Linked DNA regions of Homo sapiens: regions 1, 2, 4 and 5 are each linked to region 3. Evidence: fine-mapped expression QTL. A gene starts in region 3. Each other region holds a variant in brackets. All regions are shown on one strand. Distances are from middle to middle.

Region 1 (5,090 bases), 250 kb after region 3:
CATGAGGTGTCGGCGCTGTTGGGAAGGACTGGGAGATAAAGAGGGAAAGGTGAGCTGGGTCCTTTCACAGACAGTATGAACGCCAGGTGGCAGAGCCTGCAACTGGGGAACAATCATTCAACAGTTATCTATTTGACACCTGTTTTGAGCCTGAACCTTTGCTGGGGCCCATGGAGTTATAAAGGCGTAAGACCCCAGAGTTTAGCATTTGGTGGAGACTGTAAATCACCCAACTTTATCACAAGATGCAGTTATCGGCAGGTGACACATGCACCAGAAGACAGGCTTCAGTTGTTCTTGTCCATTTATCTCAGATCAGGCACGACCCTGTCCAAACATGGAGCAGAGAATCTTAGCCAGTGTCTCCAAAGACAGAGTGTACATCCAGGCATGTGCGCACTGTAGCACAGATGTGTCCTCCTATGTTTGGAGCCAGGGATCCCCATTATCTTCTCCCGCCCTCCCCTTCCCCCTAGGCTGCCAAGTACTGGTGGGGAAAATCCCACCACCTTGGGGCTTGATGTCCTTGAAGTCTATGGGCTTCCCGTGGGCCCTGAGTGTGCTCGGCAAAAGACACGCCCTCCATCACCACACACTCTCCAGCCACATCTTGGCCCCATCCTGAGATTTCCAGGAGTTCCTCCCCTTTTTTAAAACTTGAGTTGCTTCAAAGACTTTTTAGGGTTCCTAGCTACAGGAGCATTCAGAATGAAAATCTTCTGGGAAGAGTTAACAGTTGCTGGTATTTTTGTGTAGGCGACAATTCTTATTCCCGTTTCTCTCATTTATTTTGTCACTGAGTACTGACACTGAATACTGGGATCACACCAGCTCGAAGTCCAGTCCTCATCTTCAGCACTCCGGAGCCCAAACGCTGAACTAGCCAAGGGGAAAGCAGGTTCCATACCTTTTATCTAAAAAAACTTGGCTTAAATAGGTAAATATGACATTCCTATCTCAGAAAATTTTAATTATCAAGCATGAAACTTCCCCTCTTCGGCCTCCCCTCCACCTACAGATTCTTTCCTGTGGCCTCAGCAGTGAGGCACCCTCTGAACACAGGTCCCCTTCCTGTGCTCTGGACCCCATTTTCTTCCAAACATGGCTCTGATAGTCATTCTCTTTCTCTTCTCTGAATTTTATTAACATGCTTAAGTTTGTCCCACCTTTAAATAAAACAAAGCCTCCTTTAACTCTATCTCCCCTACTTAAAGCAACTGGCCTCCCTTCCCATCCAGAGCTGCTTTTTTTTTTGAGACAAGATCTTGCTCTGTCACCTAGGCTGGAGTGCAGTGGCGCAACTGTAGCTCACTGCAACCTCAACCTCCTGGGCTCAGGTGATGTTCCCGCGTAGCTGGGCCTACAGGCATGCACCACCACACACCCAGCTAGTTGTTTTTATTTTTGTAGGGACAGGGTCTCACTATATTCCCCAGGCTGGTCTCAAATTCTTGGGCTCAAGTGATTCTCCCACCTCGGCCTCCCAAAATGCTAGGAATACAGGCATAAGCCACTGTGCCTGGCCCAGAGCCGCTTCTTAAAACACCTTCAGCACTCACTGCCCCCACCACTGCTTCCCCTCCCATCTGCCCCAAACCTATTGCCTCATGTGTTACAAAGGGTTTCATTGTCTGCCCAGTGTCTGGGCCAGAAGCTTGCGGGGCATCCTAGCTACCTCCCTCTCCCCTCAAGCCTCTCATCAAATCAAGGACCGATCTCAGTGGTTCCGAAACTCTCCTGAGCTCTGGCCCCACCATACCTGCCCTTTTCAGCTCTCCTGAGGGTAGGGATAAGCCTGGCTGCTCTTCCTGCCTCCAGTCTCACGCCTTCTGGTGTGTCCAGATCACGAAGCGACAATGGTAATGTGGAAAGCGCCTCCCAGGTCCTATCAGACACCCATGTGATGTGGCTCCTGCTCGTTTTTCTCCATGGGCCTCACTGACTTTACCCTACACCAAGCCACTTGACATTTCCCTAGATGCGCCTACCTCACCCTGCCAGACAGACAGGGAGGCAGAAGCAACAAACACTTTTACACCTTTTAGACTCAGTTCAAGCATCAGGTTCTCCACAAAGTCCTCCCTCCTGGGTCCCCAGCTGGAATACCACCTTCTTCCTTTGTGCTCCTGTTATTCCTTGTAGAGGCTTCTGGCTCAGTACCCCTAACCCACTACTGGCCTACTTGATTTCCACACGTGCAAGCTCTTTACAAAAATGCACAAGCCCTAAAGACAACTGGCCCCGCCAGCCTCAGGATACAGGAAGCAGAGGAGGAAGTTCTGAAACCAGAGGAGACATCATTCCAAGGAAATAAGAAAAACAGACTTACGTCAGAATGATCATTAGATGGAACTTAACAAAGCAACCTGAAATCTTTGTCTCTCTGGAGGAAAGAGTTAACAACATGGAAAAGGGGGCAGACTGGAATAAACCTACAGGGCTGGTCTCAAAGCATCAGTGTGAATTCATGATTTTTAGTATCTATTTATGTCAGGTATCTCTAACCTATCTTGTTTCTACAAATCAATCAATCTATCTATCTATCTATATCTATCATCTATCTATCTATCTATCTATCTATCTATCTATCTATCTATCATCTCTTTGCACTGTATGGTGAGAGCCTAGAGGCAATGACATTCCAGTAACAAGCAGCACATTTGGCACCCAGATCTTGGTTTCTAAATAACATTCTCTGGCTGGGTATGGTGGCTCACACCTGTAATCCCAGCACTTTGGGAGGTTGAGGTGGGCAGATCACCTGAGGTCAGGAGTTCGAGACCAGCCTCCCCAACATGGTAAAACCCCCATTTCTACCAAAAATGCAAAAATTAGCTGGGTGTGGGGGCAGGCACCTGTAATCCCAGCTACTTGGAAGGCTGAGGCAGGAGAATTGCTTGAACCTGGTAGGTGGAGGTTGCAGTGAGCTGAGATTGTGCCATTGCAATCCAGCCTGGGCGACAAGAG[C/T]GAGACTCTGTCTCAAAAATAGTAATAATAATCAAATCAAATAAAAATAAATAAATACCATTCTCCATTATAAGGAACCAAGACTCCCTGGAGAAATGGCTGATTCCAGGGCTAGGGTAGGGAACATTCAAGATGAGCCTGGAACATCTTGTTATGCCAGAAGGTAAGAAAGTACTCAAAACATGATGGGAGCAAGCTACAAACACACAAGAGGCCGCTATAAATCTGGGACAATTTGAGAATCAAGATAAAATCAAAGCAATGGCTTGCAACTCTGAGTAAAACAGGAATCCCTGCATCCATATTGATAAACAAGTGAATAAATAAATGGTGAGAAAGGATGTTTTTCTTTGTATGTAGAATGTCAACCAATAAATGTAGAAGGCATTATGGAGTTAGGAAATCATGTTGGTCAATCATGACAGTAATAACTGGGACAAGACTAATCAACTGATACTATATAACTGGTGAATGAGGAACAAAATACTTATATAGTCTCAAAGTATCTCCCCACAAATTACTTGTAAATTACAAAGAGGAAATCGTAAATTTAAAATGAAATCTGGCAGACACCAACCTAAGCGGTGAACAGAGTTAACAACATTAATGGGACCAACTGACATTATATGCTGATTACGACGCACTGACGACACACTGCTTCTGTGATATTCCCACCCAGAATGCAAAACCCTCACCTAGTCATGCGGAACCATCACACAAATCCAAACTGAGGAACATTCGACAAAATAGCCTGTATTCTTCAAAAATGTCATGGTAATGAAAGACAAAAGAAAGTTGAGGAATCTGCAGTATTGAGAGACACACGTTTACAAATGTAACATGATCCTGCACAAGGTAAAAGAATGGCTACAAAGGACATTATTGGGATAAATGGCAAAATTTAAATATGAATCATGGGTTAGATAACAGTATTAAATCACTGTTAAACTTCCTGATTTTGATAATAATACTTAAAAAAATACTGAATAATGCTTAAAGTAATTCTCTTCTTCTCTTAGAAGAGAATGTCCTGTTCTTAGGGAAATGCATACTGTTTTGGGCATAATGGGGTATCTGTGCAAATTATTCTCAAATGATTAAGAAAATGCAACATGAAATATAGATAAGGCAAATGGGATAAAATGTAAACACTCAGTAAATCTGGATAAAAGATATATAGGAGTTCTTTGTGATATTCCTGCAACTTTTCTGTAAATCTGAAATTGTATTCAAAATTTTAAAGTTACCAATAAAACAAAACAAACAACCCCTGACCAAGAATCCAACAACAAGGGATGAATCAAAATTATGGTACAGTCACCCTATGGATGCCTTCAAATTACACAGCTTTACAGATCAACTTTGTGAAGATATATAACAATATAGTAAAATGCTTATAACATGTACAATGTTGAATGATAAAAGCAGGATACAAAATACTTTATGTGTATATTATTACAACTATGTAAAAGCAAGCATATAATAAAGACTGGAAGGATAAAACCAAAGTTGATGGTAAGGATACTGAGGGGTAGGGAGAGTGACTTTTTCCAAAAACTTCACCTGTTAAAAAGAAATACTTGCACCACTGGCCCTTCCCCTGGTGCTGCATCTGTGTACAGGGAATCAGAATGTTTACTGCGTTTTCTTGTCTCAGGTTGCCTCGCCCCAAACCTTAGCCCCCCACCAAAGAGAACTGATACAGCAGGACCTGGGGCCCCAGTGGCAGGAGCGTCTTTGGGATGGAGGGGCTGGAGGTGGCAAGGCTCCCATAGTGGCAGTCAGCAGCTCGAGCTCACAAAGGAGCTTCAAAGCCCACTCTGACCAGTATAGCTTGAGCAGCTGTGGACACAGCTAAGGGGGAAGCCCATCCTTGACTGACGAGACTCTGGCCTCCCCTGGCTAGACCGGCAGAGATCTGTGTGAACACCCTTTGGCTGTGTGTGCAACTCCTGAGGGCTCTTGCTGGCAGGCTACCTCCTGGGCACAGACAGTAGAGCTTCTTTGAACCTCCTAAGGTTCAGGAGCTCTTGGATCACCCTATCTAGAGGCAGAGGGCATGGCTTTCATGTCTATGGAGACAAAGCATCAAGTCATTATCAGACCTTCACACCTTCACACAG
Region 2 (5,103 bases), 330 kb before region 3:
AGCTACTGGGGAGGCTGAGGCTGGAGAATCGCTTGAACCCGGGAGGCGGAGATTGCTGTAAGCTGAGATTGTGCCATTGCACTCCAGCCTGGGCTGGGCAACACAGCAAGACTGCATCTCAAAAAAAAAAAAAAAAAAAAAAAAGGGATAAAGTACATATTGTATTAGGAAAGCATTATGTGAGAGAAGTAAAAAGAAAATACAAGTTCAAGGAGAAAAAGGAGTGATGTAAAATTTCCTGTGCTAAAGAACAGCTTACTTTTTCTTTTTTTCTTTCTTTCTTTTTTTTTTTTTTTTGAGAGGGAGTCTCACTCTGTCGCCCAGGCTAGAGTGCAGTGGCATGATCTTGGCTCACTGCAACTTCCGACACCTGGGTTCAAGCGATTCTCTTGCCTCAGCCTCCCAAGCAGCTGGGATTACATGCACACGCCACCACGCCTGGCTATTTTTTGTATTTTTAGTAGAGACAGGGTTTCACCATGTTGGCCAGGCTGGTCTCAAACTCCTGACCTCAAGTGATCCGCCCGCCTCTGCCTCTCAAAGCGCTGGGATTACAGGCGTGAGCCACTGCACCTGGCCTCTTTTTCTTTCTTTTTTTTGAGACAGAGTCTCACTCTGTCACCCAGGCTGGAGTGCACTGGGTTGATCTCAACTCACTGCAATCTCTGCCTCCGAGGTTCAAGCAATTCTAATGCCTCAGCCTCCTGAGTTGTTGGGATTACAGGTACGCATCACCATGCCCGGCTAATTTTTGTACTTTTAGTAGAGATGGGGTTTTGCTTTGTTGGCCAGGCTGGACTCAAACTCCTGGCCTCAAGCAATCTGCCCACTGCCTCGGCCTCCCATAGTGCTGGGATTACAGGCATGAGTCACTGTGTCCAGCTTCAATATTTCTAATACAAAAAAAAATTGCAAAGAAATCACATCCTTCGAAACTGTTTTTATATTTTTTTGTAGAGACAGGGTCTCAGTCTATCACTCAGGCTGGAATGCAGTGGTATGATCATTATTCACTGTAACCTTGAGCACCTGGCCTCAAGCAATCCTCCCACCATAGCCTCCCAAAGTGCTTGGATTACAGATATGTCCCACTGTGCCCAGCCTTTTGCAACTATTTAAACATGGTTAAAATTTTTTTTAAATCAAATTTTAAAATTTCCCCTTTTTTTTTTTTTTTGAGACAGAGTTTTGCTCTTGTCTCCCAGGTTGGAGTGCAATGGTGTGATCCCTACTCACTGCAACCTCCGCCTCCTGGGTTCAAGCGATTCTTTGGCCTCACCCTCCCGAGTAGCTGGGATTACAGGCACCTGCCACCACGCCCGGCTAATTTTTGTATTTATAGTAGAGACGGGGTTTCACCATGTTGTCCAGGCTGGTCTTGAACTCCTGACCTCAGGTGATCCACCCACCTCGGCCTCCCAAAGTGCTGGGATTACAGGCGTGAGCCACCATGCCCAGCCTAAAAACTTCACTTTTAAAACAAGCTTTATTGAAGGGGTACATAATTTTTAAAAATGTTTAGGGTATGCATGAGCTAAATTATTGAAAGACTACAGTCTTGAGAGATGAGCTAGAGGTTGCTTGACAAAGGAGGAGGAGAAAGACGTTCTTTGTAGGAGAAAGAGGGTTCTGTGAGTGGACTTGTTCATGGAAGGGAGTAATCTGAGATAAACTGGAAATGTATCCATCCTGGGCAACAGAGAGATACCCTATCTCTACAAAAAATACAAAAAGTAGCTGGGCATGGTGGCATGTACCTGTAGTCCCAGCTACTCAGGAGGCTAAGGCAGGGTGTATCACCTGAGCCCAGGAGGTGGAGGTTGCAGTGAGCTGAGATCACGCTATTGCACTCCAGCCTGGGCACTGGAGTGAGACCATGTCTTAAAAAAAAAAAAAAAAAAGGCCAGGCGTGGTGGCTCACGCCTGTAATCCCAGCACTTTGGGAGGCCGAGGCAGGTGGATCACGAGGTCAGGAGATCGAGACCATCCTGCCTAACACAGTGAAACCCTGTCTCTACTAAAAATACAAAAAAAAAAAAAAAAAAAAAAAATTAGCTGGGCGTGGTGGCAGGTGCCTGTAGTCCCAGCTACTCAGGAGGCTGAGGCAGGAGAATGGTGTGAACTCGGGAGGCGGAGCTTGCAGCCTGGGTGACAAGAGTGAGACTCCGTCTCAAAAAAAAAAAAAAAAAAAA[C/AC]CTGGAAATGTAAGTTGGGGTCAGACTCACAGGAACTAGGCTGAGGCATTTCTGTTTATTATTAATTTTAATTACGCAAGTTTTGCATGATTACAATCTCCTTGTAAAAAACTGAAGCTTTATGAATAGGCCTGGGACTGTCACTTCCATTTCTGGTCTCCAGAGGTGACCTTGGTTTTCAGTTGATGCAAGTTCATCTGGCACATGCTGCAGGTCTCTCTGTGACAGAATGTCCGAGCTAAGGAGTTTTAGCTTCTTCACAGGGTCATTGGCAACCAGGGGCTGGGGTGGAGCTGAGAATTTCTACAGGACTTATTACTCCTTTGTGTTTTGCAACTGGGGTTGCTCACTTAGATAATAAGAGTTGTGATTTGGGAGTGAGGGAAGGAGTTGGGGGTAATTTTGGCGCAAGGCCTGTGACACTGTATTGTCAGCAGCTGTCATTAAGCACTGTGCCACTGGAAGGTAGAAGGGAGGGTGCAGAAAAGCTGATGGGAGGACATGAAATCCCATCTTTATTTGCTTATAGATAGGCCTGGCTGGGGTAGAAATGTGCTCGCTACAAACAGTGGCCCTCTTAGTTTCTTTCGTGTCCCCACTTTTTTTTTTTTTTTTTTTTAGTAGAGATGGGGTTTCTCCATGTTGCCCAGTTTGGTCTTAAACTCCTGGGCTCAAGTGATCCACCTGCCTCGGCCTCCCGAAGTGCTGGGATTACAGGCGTGAGCCACCACACCTGGCCATATCCCCACTTTTGAATGAGACGAGGGTACAGAAAACAGTGTAATAACCATTCAAGTGTGATGAGCAACAGCAACTCATACTCGGCCTCACTGCTGGAGACAATACAGAGTGGTGTGGACAGTGGCAAAATGGACAGTCCAAGGTCTTTCTAAAGGGTGGTCATTATTCAGCCCCATCAGCTGTGGTCCTGGGGCCATATGCATCAATGTTAGCCATATCGTCTGATTTTTCAAGAGACTGTAGAAATTGGGATTTTTTTTTTTTTTTTTTTTTTGAGACGGAGTTTCGCTCTGTCGCCCAGGCTGGAGTGCAGTGGTGTGATCTCAGCTCACGGCAACCTCCGCCCCCCAGGTTCAAGCGATTCTCCTGCCTCAGCCCCCCAAGCAGCTGGGTAGCTGGGACTGCAGGCATGGACCACCACACCTGGCTAATTCTTGTATTTTTAGTAGAGACGGGGTTTTGTCATGTTGGCCAGGCTGGTCTTGAACTCCTGACCTCAGGTGATCCACCTGCCTCGGCCTCCCAAAGTACTGGGATTATAGGCCTGAGCCACCTCACCCAGCCTCGGCTCAAACATTTCTTAAATGCTGTGTTGGCCAAATAAGCCATGTGCCTGCGGGCTGCATTTGGCCTATGGGCTGTTAGTTTGTGTTCTCTGTTTCAGAGTTTCTTGTCTTTGTATATCATCCCCGGCATGCCACTGGCTCTACGATCTACGTGGCTGTGGAGGATCCTGGCCTTCTTAGGTAGATGCTGTGAGAATGGCTGACTTCACTCCCCATGTCTAGTTTGCACCCATATTCTGATATCCAGTTAGTAATAGAGCTCTGCCAAGAAGCTGAGGGCTTAGCAGAAGGTTCCAGAAGCATCCCAGGGAAGTCAGTCAATCTAGATTCATTAGACGCCAAGACCCCTCCAGGGATTTGGTCCTGAGGCCTTCAGAGTCTTTCTCTCAGGCGTCAGGGCGGGTTCTTGTGCCTCTCCCAGGACAGAGCCCAGTGGGAACACAGGTTGGTGACTGTTTCTCAAAGGGCTTTGTCCTGTGACTGAAGCCAAGCAAGGGAGTCAGACACATGAAAACACACACACACACACACACACACACACACACACACACACACACCATCCCCCATACTTCCCAGACCTTTTCCCACGCAGTCCCAGGGCGGCCAGAAGGGCAGCTGGTCGTGGGAATGAACCGCAGCCTCCTCCCCCACTGGCAGCTCCACCCCGCTCCATCTACTCCTGGCCGTGCTGTCCCACCCCCAACCCCCTTATTACTTCCAGAGAAGGAAGTAGCAGAACAATGTGGCACATCAGAGAATGGGCACAGAGCCCAGAGCCCCGTGCCCAGGATGGGTCCCCAGCAGGCCGTGGGCTCTGATCCCTGGCTGCCCCGCTCCTGCTCAGGCGGCTTCCCCAAGGTGGCTTCCTAGACCTTCTCTCCATCTCTGGAAGCTCGGCATGGCGGCCACTCTTCTGCCTTTCCGAGGTTGGCCTCTTCCCCGTTGTGCGGTAGCCAGCGTGTGACCTACTTCCTTCCGTCCTTCCTCACCCACACTCCCCACACTCCATTTGGATAGAGTTCCCAGTCTGAGGGGCTGAAGCCAGGCTTTGATGGGGATTTTGGCCAGCGGGAGCAGGTGGGAAGAAAGGGTGATATTTTCTGAAGTTTTTCTCCAGAGGTCAGGCAAGGCAAGTTGTGAGAACAGAGATGGGGTTGGCTCAAGGGCGCCAGGGCCCCGAGGTCTCATTCTTGCTTCTGGATGGGGCTGTCTCTGCCTTGGCAGACGAGTGGAAATGCTCACAGGCTAGAGGAACAGAAAAAAAAATCACTAGTCATGCCCAGCTTCCTGGAGCTGGGAAGTTGGTGGGAACCATTACTTTTGTTTTTCCTGTTGGTCTAAAATAATGTTTTGCCTGGGACCGGAACCCTACGCCCCAGGCAGGACTACCCCTCACTCACTTCCAGCTCTAGTGCTTTCAACTGCTTCACCTTCCGCCAGGCGCTTCCTGCCCTGTGAGCCAAGGGGCAGGGCTCCTCACAAGTCTTTTGCTGCCTCTAGAAGCCAGTTCCTCCCTCCGCCCCCAACCATGATCCTGACTCAAGGGTTGGTAGTGGGATCCAAGCTAGACCTTATGAGGTGGCTCAAGTGACCACTTGGAAAAG
Region 3 (5,097 bases):
TTGTTAATTTATCAAAAATAGCCTCAATCTTTCTTTTTTCCTTTTTTTTTTTGAGACGAGGTCTCACTCTGTCACCCAGGATGGAGTGCAGTGGTGCGGTATCAGCTCACTGCAACCTCTGCCCCGCGGTTCAAGGGATTCTCCTGCCTCAGCCTTCCGAGTAACTGAGATGACCTGCACGCTCCACCACACCCGACTAAGTTTTGTATTTTTAGTAGAGTGGGGGTTTCGCCATGTTGGCCAGGCTGGTCTGAAATTCCTGACCTCAAATGATCCATCTGCCTCGGCCTCCCAAAGTGCTTAGATTACACACATGAACCACTGCGCCTGGCCACCTCAATCTTTTTTTTTTAATACTGTATTTAATATAATACACATATTTAATATATTTAATATAATATTTGATATATTTAATATTTAATATATTTAATATAATATTTGATATATTTAATATTTAATATATTTGATATTTAATATATTACACATATTTACAATAAATATGTGAAAATTGGGCCAGGCGTGGTGGCTCATGCCTGTAATCCCAGCACTTTGGGAGGCTGAGGCGGTTGGATCATCTGAGGTCAGGAGTTCGAGACCACCCTGGTCAACATGGTGAAACCCCATCTCTAGTAAGAATACAAAAATTAGCCAGGCATGGTGGTGCGCGCCTGTAATCCCAGCTGCTCGGGCTGAGGAAAGAGAATCGCTTGAACGTGGGAGGCGGAGGTTGCAGCGAGCTGAGATCGCACCACTGCACTCCAGCCTGGGCAACAGAATCTGTCTCAAAAAAAAAAAAAAAAAAAAGTGAAAATTTTGAACTTATATTCGTAAAAAACACTTTTCTGTTTTATATATTGCAAAGTTTCATTATTTCATTTGATAGCATTCCACTGCTTTAAAAAATGTTTGAAAACTACTAAATACTTAATCTGACTGCGTTCAAGCAAGGGTAAAGCCAAACCATAAGATTTCGCTGTTTTGTTTTGTTGTCTATTCTAGTGTTAAAAAAAATCCTTTATCTTGTTGTTTACTTTTTTTATTTCTGTAGAGACAGGGTCTCACTATGTTGCCCAGGGTGGTCTCCAACTCCCAGTCTCAAGCAATCCTCCCACCTCTACCTCCCAAAGTGCTGGGAATAAGGGCTTGAGCCATCTCCTAGGGCCTCAAAAAAATCCATTAAAATAACCTACTTGAACTGTCTCCTTGCCAAAAGTCTATTTTCTCCGAAACTCAGAAACTCATCTTACTTCCTACAAAAGCCCTAGAACAGCAATTTAGGTTTCAACATCAGTGACCAAGGAATCAAATGAAGGAACACTTTCAGTTCTTCGATCAAGTCCCATTTTTGTAGTTTTCTCCCCTGCCTGAACACTTTGGACCGCCACCTCTGTCTATTCCTTAGTTCTCGGGTGAAAGTTATCCTTTCCAATAAACCTTCCGAGTTTTTCAAATCTTAATGAGAATCCTTTATTTTGTGCTCCAACAAGCCCCTTCATTTCCCCAACCTCAGCACTCATCAACGAAGGGGAACCCAACTGTCTTGTCTTTGTTACCCCAGCACCTGGCGTGTAACAGCAGCGCAACAAATGTTCTTCAATCAGTTGAAAGTAGATATTAAGTCATGTACACCATCTCCATTTCATAGGAGTCATAAAGCATGATAAGCTCTACTAATGATTAATCTTATAAATGAAGAAACCAGGGTACAGAGAGAAAAATTAAGTTGTCCTGGGTTCTAAAACAGGTAAACGACAACAGAATATAGAACCTGAGACTCCAGAGTCAGAAGCTATTTGTACTCTACCACGCTGCTTCCACTTAAATTCTAGGTCCTATTGACACAGCTGACCCTGTTGGCTCTACTGACACAACTCAGATTGGGCCGACTAAAATGTTCAGAGTATATCTGGGTGCGGTGGCTCATGCCTGTAATCCCAGCACTTTGGGAGGTCGAGGCGGGCGGATCACTTGAGATCAGGAGCTGGAGACTAGCCTGGCCAACATGGTGAAACACTGACTCTACTAAAAATTTTTAAAAATTAGCCGGGTGTGGTGGTGCGTGCCTGTAATCCCAGCTACTTGGGAGGCTCAGGCAGGTGAATCACCTGAACCCGGAAGGCGGAGGTTGCAGTGAGCCAAGATCGCGCCACCGCACGCCAGCCTGGGCGACAGAGACTCCGTCTCAATAATAACAACAATAATAATAAATAAATAAAAGAGTAAGGGGTTCAAAGTTAGGAAATACAGTTTGACCTGCCCCTTCTCTCTAGAAAGGAAACTGGCTCCTGGGACAGCCTTGCATTTCTAATTATTACAGATTGGGCGTCTTCCCAGGAAAAAAGCCCGACCGGCAGACTGTGGAGCCGGACACCCTATTCCAGAAACTAAACTACAAAGGTGGAGGCCAAAATTCGACGCCTACAGACTACAGACTGCAGCCCCTTTATCACATTTCTCTCTTAACTTTTCAGTCCTCCCCGCTTCCCGGTTCGCTCAGGCAGTGCACATCCCAGAGCTCCTTCCCCGCTTGGACCCGAACTGTTCTCACTGAATGATCTCCTCGCTGACATCCAGGCCGAAAGTCTTCCGCAACTGCTGGGTGCACCAGTGCACCAGCGGCTCCCCGGACACCGCCCCAGCCACCGCCATCTTCCCCAGCCGGAACCAGCTGAGCTGCAAAAGCCCCACGTCCTGCACCGGACTAGTTCCCTTCGCAACACCAACCTCTCTCACGCGGGTTCCGCCAGCTTGCACCGCCCCGCAAGGTCGCACCGCCTCCAGTGCAGATCCCGCCCATCTGTGCGCCTCCTGCTTCTTCCTGCTTTGTTGTCTACTTCCTTGTGCCCTCCGGAGTCGAGCTCTGTCAGTGCATGATTCTTGCCAATCGCTAAACGTAGGACTCGAGGAAGGCCATTGGCAATTCTGCTAAGAAGACAGTGCAAGTGCCTATAAAAACGACAGTTTAGGGGGAAAACAAACCAATACCCGGAAAGCTGAGAGGCCAGCTTTTTAATCGTCATGGTTTTATGTAAAATAAAACAGCACGTGGAAGGTATTGTAAGCGCTGTAAGTTTTTGCTCTGGTGGTGGTTTTAATTTTTTAATTAATTAATTAATTTATTTATTTATTTTGAGACGGAGTCTCGCACTGTCGCCCAGGCTTGAGTGCAGTGGCATGATCTCGGCTCACTGCAAGCTCCGCCTCCCGGGTTCATGCCATTCTCCTGCCTCAGCCTCCCAAGTAGCTGGGACTACAGGCACCCGCCACCACGCCCGGCTAATTTTTTTTGTATTTTTAGTAGCGACGCGGTTTCACGTGTTAACCGGGATGGAGTGTTTATTTTTAATACCCCCTGTAGTCGACTACTAGATTCACACCGCTAAAACTTCTATTTTATTTTTTGAGCCATGTATTTTCCAGGAGAGCCAAGACAACTCAGCAAGCTCGAGGGTAAAAAACAGTAAAACAGGAGTTGGAATTTGGCTTTGAGGACTTTCCACATGAGTTCTCAACCAAAAATGACAGTATTTAAGGGCTGTCTGCAATTCCCTACCCCGCTAAGACAATGGGCTGGGGAAAATTTAGCCAAACTTTTCTGGAGATCATAATGTCTTCCCATTCATTTCTGGCTTTTTGTTGCATTTGCAGGTTAAAAGTTCTTCATTTCTACTAGCCTGTTTAGACTAAGTGGTCACATTAAATTGGCAGCTGTTTTACCTTTTTGCTAGTGTTTTCATTGGCATAAATATTATAATTAAAATCATGAGTGTATTGGCCGGGCGCAGTGTCTCATGCCTGTAATCCCAGCGCTTTGGGAGGCCGAGGCGGGAGGATCACCCGAGCGCACACGGAGACACACACACAAACACACACACACACACACACACACACACTGGGCGTGGTGGCTCATGCCTGTAATGCCAGCACTTTGGGAATCAGAGGCAAGAGGATCACTTGAGCCCAGGAGTTCCGGACCAGTCTGGGCAGCATAAGGAGAATCCTCATCTCTACAAAAATGAAAAAAATTAGCCTGGCATGGTGGCACATGCCTGTAGTCTCAGCTACTTGAAAGGCTGAGGTGGGAGGATCACTTGGGCCTGGAAGGTCAAGCTTGAAGTGAGCCCTGATTGCACTACTGCACTCCAGCCTGGGCGACAGAGCAAGGCCTTTTTACAAAAACAAAACAAAACCTCATAAGTGTATTGATTTACATTCCATTTAGATTGTCGTAGATATCATTAATTTGGAAAGCAGATGATTTTCCAGGGTTTTTTTTTTTAAGAAAAAGTCAAAATACTCTGTGAATGTTTATTAATTGTGGGTACAAGTTTTGTTTCTTTGTAAAACTCCACTACATTTAATAATAATTGTAAGGTATCAAAGTCATTTACCTGTTTATTTATTCAGTCCCTGTGTTAGGGTTCTCCAGAGACAGAACCAATAGGATAGATAACAGATAGATATAGATACAGATCTATGAGGAGATTTATTAGGGAATTGGCTCAGGAAATTATGGAGACTGAAAAGACCCATGACAGGCCATCTGCAAGCAGGAGACCCTGGAATGCTGGTAGCTGGCTCAGTCCAAGTTGTGAAATCTTCAAGTCTCAAGGTGGAGGGCCTGGAGTTCTGATGTCTGGGAGCAGAAGTCTGAGAAGAGTGTCTCAGCTCCAGAAGGAAGAAATATTTTTTCTCACCTTTTTTGTTCTGGGTCCTTGGTTAATTGGATGGTGCCCGCTCACATTGAGAGCAGATCTGCCCCACTCAGTCCACTGACTCACATGCCAGTCTCCTTTGGAAATACCCTCAAAGGCACCCAGAAGCAATGCTTTACAAGTTATCTAGGTATTTCTTTTTCTTTTTCTTTTTTTTTTCTTTTTCTTTTTTTGAGATGGAGTTTCCTCTTGTTGCCCAGGCTGGAGTGCAATAGTGCAATCTTGGCTCACCACAACCTCCGCCTCCCGGGTTCAAGCGATTTTCCTGCCTTAGCTTCCCGAGTAGCTGGGATTACAGGCATGTGCCACCATGCGCGGCTAATTTTGTATTTGTAGTAGAGATGGGGTTTCTCCATGTTGGTCAGGCTGGTCTCAAACTCCC
Region 4 (5,103 bases), 410 kb before region 3:
GGTAGGCGGAGTTTGCAGTGAGCAGAGATCGCCACTGCACTCCAGCCTGGGCGACACAGCGAGACTCCGTCTCAAAAAAAAAAAAAAAAGTAAAAAAAAAAGTCTGGCTCTATTCTAGTAGAAGAAGCTGTAAAATAAAGCAGAAATGTGATGGGAAATTAAAAAGAGAGTGATTCACTTTACATAGAGTAGTCAGAGAAGGCCCCTTTGAGCTGAGGGAGGAAAGTAGAGCTAGAAAGACCATTCTAGACAAAGGAAAAATTGTGCAAAGACCCCAAGGCAGGAAAATTTGGAGTGTTTGGAGAGTTGTAAGACAAATGGAAGGTGGGCACACACTAAGCTCTTCCTCAATAAATGCCAGCTAAAGAAATTAATAAATGATTGTAAGGATTTCTGCTTCTAGACAAGATGATTTACATTCCCACCTAAAAACAACTAAAATACTCCCCAAAGTATGTGAAACATGGTTCTCAAGACATTGAAACCCATAAGATGAAAAATAGTGATTCCAGAGAGTCAGCAAACAAATGAGGAAAACCCTACAAATGCCCCACCTTGCTGCCTAAAGAAAATTTCCAGGGCCGGGCACCGTGACTCACACTTGTAATCCCAGCACTTTCAGAGGCCAAGGTGGAAGGATCATTTGAGACCAGCCTGGGCAGCATAGTGAGACCCTGTCTCTGCAAAAACAAATGTAAAACAGGCAGGCATGTGCCTGTTTTACAATGTAAATGTAAACAAATGTAAAACAGGTGGCAAGTGCCTGAAGTCCCAGCTATTTAGGAGGCTGAGGCAGGAGGATCACTTGAGCCCAGGAGGTCAAGGCTACAGTGAGCTATGATAATGCCACTGCACTCCAGCCTGGTAACAGAGCAAGGCCCTGTCTCCAAAACATTATATTAATAATATAATTTGGCCGGGCATGGTGGCTCACACCTGTGATCCCAGCACTTTGGGAGGCCAAGGCAGGCAAATCACCTTAGTTTAGGAGTTTGAGACCAGCCTGGCCAACATGGAGAAACCCCGTCTTTACTAAAAATACAAAAATTAGCCAGGTTTGGTGGCAGGCCCCTATAATCCCATGTACTTAGGAGGCTGAGGCAGGAGAATCGCTTGAACCTGGGAGGCAGAAGTTGCAGTGAGCTGAGACCCACGCCATTGCACTCCATCCAGGGCAACAAGAGCGGAACTCCGTCTCAAAAAAAAAAATGTACCTCTCCCTCTCCCCCTCCCCCTCCCCCTCTCCCTACGGTCTCCCTCTCCCTCTCTTTCCACGGTCTCCCTCTGATGCCGAGCCGAAGCTGGACTGTACTGCTGCCATCTCGGCTCACTGCAACCTCCCTGCCTGATTCTCCTGCCTCAGCCTGCCGAGTGCCTGCGATTGCAGGCGCGCGCCGCCACGCCTGACTGGTTTTCGTATTTTTTTGGTGGAGACGTGGTTTCGCTGTGTTGGCCAGGCTGGTCTCCAGCTCCTAACCGCGAGTGATCCGCCAGCCTCAGCCTCCGGAGGTGCCGGGATTGCAGACGGTGTCTGGTTCACTCAGTGCTCAATGGTGCCCAGGCTGAAGTGCAGTGGCGTGATCTCGGCTTGCTACAACCTCCACCTCCCAGCCGCCTGCCTTGGCCTCCCAAAGTGCCCAGAGTGCAGCCTCTGCCCGGCCGCCACCCCGTCTAGGAAGTGAGGAGCGTCTCTGCCTGGCCGCCCATCGTCTGGGATGTGAGGAGCCCCTCTGCCTGGCTGCCCAGTCTGGAAAGTGAGGAGCGTCTCTGCTGGGCCGCCATCCCATCTAGGAAGTGAGGAGCGCCTCTTCCCGGCCGCCATCCCATCTAGGAAGTGAGGAGCGTCTCTGCCCGGCCACCCATCGTCTGAGATGTGGGGAGCGCCTTTGCCCCGCCGCCCCGTCTGGGATGTGAGGAGCGCCTCTGCCCGGCCGCGACCCCGTCTGGGAGGTGAGGAGCGTCTCTGCCCAGCCACCCCGTCTGAGAAGGGAGGAGACCCTCCGCCTGGCAGCCGCCCCATCTGAGAAGTGAGGAGCCCCTCCGCCCGGCAGCCGCCCCATCTGAGAATTGAGGAGCCCCTCCGCCCGGCAGCCACCCCGTCTGGGAAGTGAGGAGCGTCTCCGCCCGGCAGCCGCCCCGTCCGGGAGGGAGGTGGGGGTCAGCCCCCGCCAGGCCAGCCACCCCGTCCAGGAGGGAGGTGGGGATCAGCCCCCCGCCCGGCCAGCCGCCCCGTCCGGGAGGGAGGTGGGGAGGTCAGCCCCCCACCCGGCCAGCCACGCCGTCCGGGAGGTGAGGGGCTCCTCTGCCCGGCCGCCCCTACTGGGAAGTGAGGAGCCCCTCTGCCCGGCCACCACCCCGTCTGGGAGGTGTGCCCAACAGCTCATTGAGAACGGGCCATGATGACAATGGTGGTTTTGTGGAATAGAAAGCGGGGAAAGGTGGGGAAAAGATTGAGAAATCGGATGGTTGCCGTGTCTGTGTGGAAAGGAGTAGACATGGGAGACTTTTCATTTTGTTCTGTACTAAGAAAAAGTCTTCTGCCTTGGGATCCTGTTGATCTGTGACCTTACCCCCCAACCCTGTGCTCTCTGAAACATGTGCTGTGTCCACTCAGGGTTAAATGGATTAAGGGCAGTGCAAGATGTGCTTTGTTAAACAGATGCTTGAGGGCAGCATGCTCTAAGAGTCATCACCACTCCCTAATCTCAAGTACCCAGGGACACAAACACTGCGGAAGGCCTCAGGGTCCTCTGCCTAGGAAAACCAGAGACCTTTGTTCACTTGTTTATCTGCTGACCTTCCCTCCACTATTGTCCTATGACCCTGCCAAATCCCCCTCTGTGAGAAACACCCAAGAATGATCAATAAAAAAAAAAAAAAGTAAAAAAAAAAAAAAAA[G/AAG]TATATATAAAAAAAGAATCAGCCGGGCGCGGTTGCTCATGCCTGTAATCCCAGCACTTTGGGAGACCAAGGCAAGCAGATCACAGGGTCAGGAGTTCGAGACCAGCCTGGCCAATATGGTGAAACCCCATCTCTACTAAAAATACAAAAATTAGCTGGGCGTGGTGGTGTGTGCCTGTAGTCTCAGCTACTCAGGAGGCTGAGGCAGAAGAATCGCTTGAACTTGGGAGGCAGAGGTTGCTGTGAGCTGAGATTGCGCCACTGCACTCCAGCCTGGGCAACAGAGTGAGACTTCGTCTGAAAACAAACAAACAAACAAACAAAATCTCCATTGGATAGGAGAGTATTACAAGAAATTAAAAAGAAAAAATTTTAAATAAAGAAAGAAAAGAAAAAAAATCCAGTACCTAACAAAGTAAAATTGGCAGTGTCTGACATCCAACAGAAATTAGCATGTATACAAAGAGACAGGAAAACATGACCCCTAAGAAAAATAAAAACCAATCAATTTAAATCTACTCAAGGTGAAGCATGGTGGCCCATGCCTGTAATCCAGCACTTTGGGACTTGAGGTCAGGAGTTCGAGACCAGCTTGGCCAACATTATGAAATCCCATCTCTACTAAAAATACAAAAAAATTAGCAGAACATGGTGACCCACCTGTAATCTCAGCTACTAGGGAGGCTGAGGCAGGAGAATCTCTTGTACCTGGGAGGTGGAGGTTACAGTGAACTAAGATTGTGCCATTGCACTCCAGCCTGGGCAACAGAGCTAGACTCCATCTCAAAGAAAACTATAGACTAATATCTCTTATCAATATGGATGCAAAAATCCTCAGCAAAATACCAGGAAAGTGGCCAGGTTGAGTGGCTCACACCTGTAATCCCAGTGCTTTGGGAGGCTGAGGCTGGAGGATTGCTTGAGCCCAGGGGTTCAAGACCAGCCTGGGCAACAGATCTTGTGTCTAGAAAAAAAAAATTTTTTTTAATTAGTTGGGCATGGCGGCCACACTTGTAGTCCCAGCTACTTGGGAGGCTGAGGCAGGAAGGATCGCTTGAGCCCAGGAGTTCAAAGCTGCAGTCAGCTATGATTGCACCACTGCACTTCAGCCTGAACAACAGAGTGAGACCCTGTCTCAGACAACAACAAAACACTAGCAAACCAATTCCAGCAACATATACAAAAAATTATACCATGACCAAGTGGAATTTATTCCAGAAATGCATGGTTGGTTTAACATCCAAATATCAATCAATGTAATATATTTTACTAATAGAATAAGAAAACATGATTATCTCAAAAGACATAAAGAAAGCATTTGACAAAATACAAAACCCATTCATGATTAAAAAAAACAAAACACGAAAAAATACTTGGTTGGGCTCGGTGGCTCACACCCGTAATCTCAGCACTTTGTGAGGCTGAGGCGGGTGGATCGCTTGAGCCCAGAAGTTTGAGACCAACCTCGGCAACAGAAAGGGACCCCATCTCTATTAAAAAAGAAAAGAGGGCGGGGCCTGGTGGCTCACACCTGTAATCCCAGCACTTTGGGAGGCCGAGGCAGGCAAATCACAAGGTCAGGAGTTTGAGACTAGCCTAGCCAATACGGTGAAACGCGCTTGCTGCTGAACATATTAAACAATCGGCTGGGTGTGGTGGCGCGCACCTGTAGTCCCAGCTACTCAGGAGGCTGACGCAGGAGAATCGCTTGAACCCAAGAGGTGGAGGTTGCATGAACCAAGATTTTGCCACTGCACTCCAGCGTGGGTGACAGAGTGAGACTTCATCTCAAAAAAAAAAAAAAAAAAGGCCCAGTGCAGTGGCTCACACCTGTAATCCCAGCATTTTGGGAAGCCGAGGTATGTGGATTACGAGGTCAGGAGTTCAAGACTGGCCTGACCAAGATGGTGAAACCCCATCTCTACTAAAACGACAAAAATTAGCCAGGCTGAATGGCAAGCACCTGTAATCACAGCTACTCGGGAGGCTGAGGCAGGAGAATCGCTTGAACCCAGGCGGCAGAGGTTGCAGTGAATTGAGATTGCACCACTGCACTCCAGCCTGGATGACAGAGTGAGACTCCGTCTCAAAAGAAAAGAAAAGAAAAGAAGGGCCAGGTGTGGTGGCTTATGCCTGTCATCCCAGCACTTTGGGAGTCCAAGGTGGGTGGATCACCTGAGGTTGGGAGTTCAATAGAGCCTGACC
Region 5 (5,103 bases), 200 kb before region 3:
GCTGGGATTACAGGCGTGAGCCACCGCGCCCGGCCGAGACACATTCTTTTCTAATCACACTAACAAAAATCCTTACGTTCATTCTGATTGGACCAGCTTCTGGAGTTTAAAATCAATGGCCCTCAAAATCTTTACATTTTGTGACCAGGTGCAGTGGCTCATGCCTGTAATCCCAGCACTTTGGGAGGCTGAGGCAGGCAGACTGCTTGAGCTCAGGAGTTAGAGACCAGGCTGGGCAACATGGTGAAACCCGGTCTTTACCAACAATACAAAAAAAAAATTAGCCAGATGTGGTGTTAAGAGCCTGTAGTCCCAGCTACTGAGGTGGCTGAGGTGAGAGGATCACCTGAGCTCAGGAGGTGGAGGTTGCAGTGAGCTGAGATCACACCACTGCACTCCAGCCTGGGTGACAGAGTGAGACCCCGTGTCAAAAAAAAAAAAAAATTTTGAGCATTCTCCAAGTCTTCGCCTTTTCTGGTTTTAATTTAAAACAAACAAACAAAAAAAACAAAACAAAACATAGTGCATATGTAGTTTTTGTCTGCCCAGAATCCCTCTTTTCTGCAGAAAACTGCCTTACTCCCACTCCACGTGTTCCTAGTAAGATAACAATCACAGTGCCCTTTCAGCTACCTGGCTCTGGGAGTGGGTTCAGTATCAACCTATTCTTTCAGTTCTTCTAAAGTAAACTGCTGATGGAATATTTCTTTAGTCTTTCAAGAGGGCAGAGCCATGCTTCTTCCTTAATATGTGTGTTCATGACATAAAACCCTTCAAACCTCTCCTAATCTTAAAAGTATTAAATGTTTACATCTTCCTCAAACATAATACTTGATTGACAGTCAAGGAGTTCCAACACAAAACTATTAATATGGCGAGACAGCAAACACCAACCCTTCTTATCCACTCAATTATACTATGAAATGAGTTATGGTTGAATCATCAGAATGTTCTGGAATGGCTGGGTACAGTGGCTTACACCTGTAATCCCAGCACTGTAGGCAGGTGGATCACTTGAGTCTAGGAGTTTGAGACCAGCCTGGGCAACATGGTGAAACCCTGTACCTACAAAAAATATATAAAACATTAGCCAGGTATGGTGGCACGCACCAGTAGTCCCAGCTACTGGGGAAGCTGAGGTGGGAGGATTACGTGAGTCTGGGAGGCGGAGGTTGCAGTGAGCTGTGATTGCACCACTGCACTCCAGCCTGGGCGAGAGAACAAGACCCTGTCTCAAAAACAAACAAGAGAACATTCTGGATGACTTATTTCTCCTAGAACAACTAGATTTTTCAGACTATGAAAGGTTATCAGAATTTCACTGCATCGTGAACATTTTTGTGTCAATTAGCTATAACTTAAAACATTATTTTTATTTATTTATTTAAGTACAATTTCCATTTTATTTTTCTCCAGAGAATAGCCTGTCTTCAGTCTTTAAGAACTCACCTCCTTACATGGGCTTTGGTGGGGGACGTGGGGCAGCACCCGCAGGTCTAAATCGGGGTGGGGGTGTTCGGTCCTTGCGGGCTTCACGAGATCGATTCCTGACTACTTTGCTGTGAATTGCACAACTCACACAGTAATGCAGCTTCACATACAGCTTGGGAAGCACATAGGCATCGAAGACGCTCGCTTCAGAAATGTCCCTGACTGCTGCGGACTCCACTATGTTTCGAATGACGAATTTCTTAATGGCCTTGTCTTTGGGCACGCATCGGGCACAGTTAGTGCAGCGAATAGGCTGCATGTGGCCGCGGCCCTTTTTGGCACGACCATTGTTCCTTCTTTTCTTTGTCATCTTGGAGGCACGGACCGGAGAGAGCAAAAACATTATTTTTATTTTATTTATTTATGTAATTTTTTGAGACAAGAGTCTTGCTCTGTTGCCCAGGCTGGGGTGCAGTGGCGCGATCCCAGCTCACTGCAACTTTTGCCTCCTAGATTCAAGCAATTCTCCTGCCTCAGCCTCCCAAGCAGCTGGTATTTCAGATGCCGGGCTAATTTTTTTTTTTTTTTTTT[TTA/A]AGTAGAAATGGGGTTTCATCATGTTGGCCAGTCTGGTCTTGAACTCCTGACCACAGGTGATCTGCCTGCTTTGGCCTCCCAGAATGCTGGGATTGCGGGCCTCGTGAACCACCATGCCTGGCCAACTTAAAACATAATTTTAAATGCTTGAACAGAATTATTACCATTATTATTTTTTTGAGACAGTCTCACTCTGTCATGCAGGCTGGGGTGTAGTGGCGAGATCCCAGCTCACTGCAGCCTCCACCTTCTGGGTTGAAGCAATTCTCGTGCCTTAGCCTCTCAAGTAGCTAGGATTACAGGCACCTGCCACCAGAGCTGGCTAAATTTTCATATTTTTAGTAGAGATGGGGTTTCACCAAGTTGGCCAGACTGGTCTCAAATTCCTGGCCCCAAGTGATCCAACTGCCTTGGCCTCCCAAAGTGCTGGGATTATAGGCGTGAGCCACCATGCCCAGCTGAATAGAATTATTTTGAACAAACCAACCACGATTCATTTAACCAATTAACTATAGATGGATATTTAGGTTGTCCTAATTTTCACTTGTATAAACAAGGCTGAGAGAAATATCTTTTTTTTTTTTTTCTTTGAGGCAGGGTCTTCCCTCTGCTGACAGGCTGGAGTGCAGTGATGTAATCATGGCTCACTACAGCCTTGACCCCCAGAGCTCCAGTGATCCAGTGATCTATCTCAGTCTGCCAAGTAGCTGAGACCACAGGCACATTCCACCAGCTGATTAAAAAAAGGCCGGGTGTGGTGGCTGACACTCGCAATCCCAGCACTTTGGGAGGCCAAGGCGGGCGGATCACCTGAGGTCAGTTTGAGACCAGCCTGGCCAACATGGTGAAACCCCATCTCTACTGAAAATAGAAAAATTAGCTGGGCGTGGTGGTGTGTGCCGGTCGTCCCAGCTACTTGGGAGGCTGAGGCAAGAGAATCACTTGAACCCGGTGCACGGTAGGTCGAGATCGTGCCACTGCACTCCAGCCTAGTGACAGACCAAGACTCTGTCTCAAAAAAAAAAAAAAATTATTTTTAGTAGAGATAGGACCTCACCATGTTGCCTAGGCTGTTCTCAATCTCATGGGCTCAAGCGATCTACCCACCTCAGCCTCCCAAAGTGCTGGGATTATAGGCATGAGCCACCATGCCTGGCTGAGAGAAATATCTTTGCACCTGTTTCACTAGTTTCATAGGGTGAAGTCCTACATATAAGCAAGTAAAAGGGTATGCACATTTTGAGGCTTTTTTTAAAACATTTTTTATAGAGACAGGGTCTCGCTTTGTTGAGGAGGCTGTTTTTGTTTGTTTGTTTGTTTGTTTTTTGAGATAGAGTCTGTCTCTGTCGCCCAGGCTGGAGTGCAGTGGCGCGATCTTGGCTCACTGCAACCTCTGTCTCCTGGGTTCAAGCGATTCTCCTGCCTCAGCCTCCTGAGTAGCTGGGACTACAGGTGCATGCCACCACACTCAGCTAATTTTTGTATTTTTAGTAGATACGGGGTTTCACCATGTTGGCCAGGATGGTCTCGATCTCTTGACCTCATGATCCGCCAGCCTTGGTCTCCCAAAATGCTGGGATTGCAGGCGTGAGCCACTGCACTTGGCCTCGGAGGCTGGTCTTGAACTCCTGGGCTCAAGCAATCCTCCCAAGCTCAGCCTCCCAAAGTGCTGGGATTACATGCATAAACGAGCATGCCCGGCCTTTAAGGCTTTTCGATACATACTACTCAACCAACTTCCAGGCTTTCTGGAACTTAAAGAAAACTCTATGGTATTGCCTACATTTCCAGGGTAGTTTATTTACTCTTCTCAGGACCTTTTTAAGGTATTATCAGAAATGTACAAAGTTTTCTACTTTTGAACCTATTTGTCTTTATCTTCAAGGGATAACATTTTGTGTTTGTTTTTAATGCCAACAAACACAAAATGGTTATGGTTAGTATAACCATTACCTTGTAAACTGACATTGAAAGCTACTGCTCTTATCTTAAGGAGGTCTATATTGATTTCTGGATTCCTTTCCTGGGTTACATGACTACTCTAAACCCAGATACATATATATATACATATATATATATGCATGTATATGTGTGTGTGTGTTATGTGTATGTAAAATAAATATATATTTTCTATATATGAAGGCCAGGTGGCTCACGTGGGCAATTCCAGCACTTTGGGAGGCCAAGGTGGATGGATCATCTGAGGCCAGGAGTTCAAGACCAGCCTGGCTAACATGGCAAAACCCCAACTCTACTAACACAAAAATTAGCTGGGTGTGGTGGCACACACCTTTAATCCCAGCTACTCAGGAAGCTGAGGCAGTAGAATCACTTGAAACCAGGAAGCAGAGGTTGCAGTGAGCTGATATCATGCCACTGCACTCTAGCCTGGGTAACAGAGCAAGAACCCCTCTCTCAAAATAAAGAGCAAAAGAGAGAGAGAGATCAATTTATCCCATACGCTCTCTCCCCTACTAATATGTATGACCTTATATTTATTCATAGATAATATTAAAATAGTTCCGACCCAAAAACTTCAATACTGAGCACAATTTAAATCCTTCTTAAACCAGGACAATAAAAGGCTAGATTTCCTAGTATACAGGTTGGGAGTTCAGATTTCTAATCAGCAAGTAGTTGGCAGCCAGGAAAGATTTAAGTTCATAAATGAGGACCATGTGCAGTGTGTTTTTTTCTTACCTTCTCCATCCAGCCCAAATTCAGCTCTTCAACTTTCTAGCAAACTTGAATAATGTTTTAGCTTTAATCACAACAAGTATGATCAACCATACCACATCTAATTTTTTACCAGTATCCATTAGTCTCAATTTTCACTATCGCTTATCTGTGAATACTATCAAGAGCTTTCCAAAAGCATCGAGTTTTTCCTGCCAAATCTCTATAATCTCTTTAACTGTCTGGGTCTGTTTACAGTATGTAAAAATTTTTAGCCATTTAATTTATAATTTTAATCTTATAGAAAAATCTCACAAAAAAGTATATTCCTGAGAAGCTCCACAGATGTGGACTACTTTAGGAAGAAGTAAAGGAGGGCCTTGGTTAAGAACAGATGAGATA

Which allele goes with the higher level. Positions count from the first base shown, and alleles are read on the strand shown. Sizes are in standard deviations (SD) of each study's normalised expression. Not every link is listed here.
For the expression in prefrontal cortex of the gene that starts at base 2,677 in region 3, allele C in region 2 goes with a higher level than allele AC (moderate effect, 0.57 SD a copy in BrainSeq).
As copies of AAG replace G in region 4, the expression in lymphoblastoid cells after a statin of the gene that starts at base 2,677 in region 3 goes down (large effect, 0.84 SD a copy in CAP).

What was found. PIP is the estimated chance that this variant, and not a neighbour inherited with it, causes the effect.
Region 1: its variant is the best candidate, but not a certain one, in a credible set for the expression of TRIP4 in whole blood (TOPMed, PIP 0.63).
Region 2: its variant is the best candidate, but not a certain one, in a credible set for the expression of TRIP4 in prefrontal cortex (BrainSeq, PIP 0.86).
Region 4: its variant is the best candidate, but not a certain one, in a credible set for the expression of TRIP4 in lymphoblastoid cells after a statin (CAP, PIP 0.65).
Region 5: its variant is the best candidate, but not a certain one, in a credible set for the expression of TRIP4 in monocytes after Pam3CSK4 (Quach 2016, PIP 0.59).

The regions. Positions count from the first base shown.
Region 1 is chr15:64,138,492-64,143,581 of GRCh38, reverse strand. It overlaps SNX1 (sorting nexin 1), which reads right to left. Exons shown (of 15, transcript NM_003099.5): 15 at 1-5,090. Among named protein-coding and RNA genes, the nearest start is that of SNX22, 11 kb to the left of the region's middle. The variant C/T (reference allele first, on the strand shown) is at 2,968.
Region 2 is chr15:64,717,707-64,722,809 of GRCh38, reverse strand. LOC124903507 (a long non-coding RNA gene) reads right to left here. Exons shown (of 3, transcript XR_007064679.1): 3 at 2,241-4,744. Among named protein-coding and RNA genes, the nearest start is that of OAZ2, 17 kb to the right of the region's middle. RefSeq lists an enhancer at 4,243-4,743. The variant C/AC (reference allele first, on the strand shown) is at 2,193.
Region 3 is chr15:64,385,416-64,390,512 of GRCh38, reverse strand. It overlaps TRIP4 (thyroid hormone receptor interactor 4), which reads right to left and starts at 2,677. Exons shown (of 13, transcript NM_016213.5): 1 at 2,549-2,677. The coding sequence starts at 2,649. It also overlaps a transcript of PCLAF not described here. RefSeq lists enhancers at 1,961-2,461, 2,391-2,880, 2,462-2,962.
Region 4 is chr15:64,796,204-64,801,306 of GRCh38, reverse strand. No RefSeq gene overlaps it. Among named protein-coding and RNA genes, the nearest start is that of RBPMS2, 23 kb to the right of the region's middle. RefSeq lists an enhancer at 1,143-2,045. The variant G/AAG (reference allele first, on the strand shown) is at 2,899.
Region 5 is chr15:64,589,677-64,594,779 of GRCh38, reverse strand. All of the region lies in intron 2 of ZNF609 (zinc finger protein 609), which reads right to left. All of the region lies in intron 4 of LOC101930091 (a long non-coding RNA gene), which reads left to right. It also overlaps the pseudogene RPS26P50. Among named protein-coding and RNA genes, the nearest start is that of OAZ2, 110 kb to the left of the region's middle. The variant TTA/A (reference allele first, on the strand shown) is at 2,023.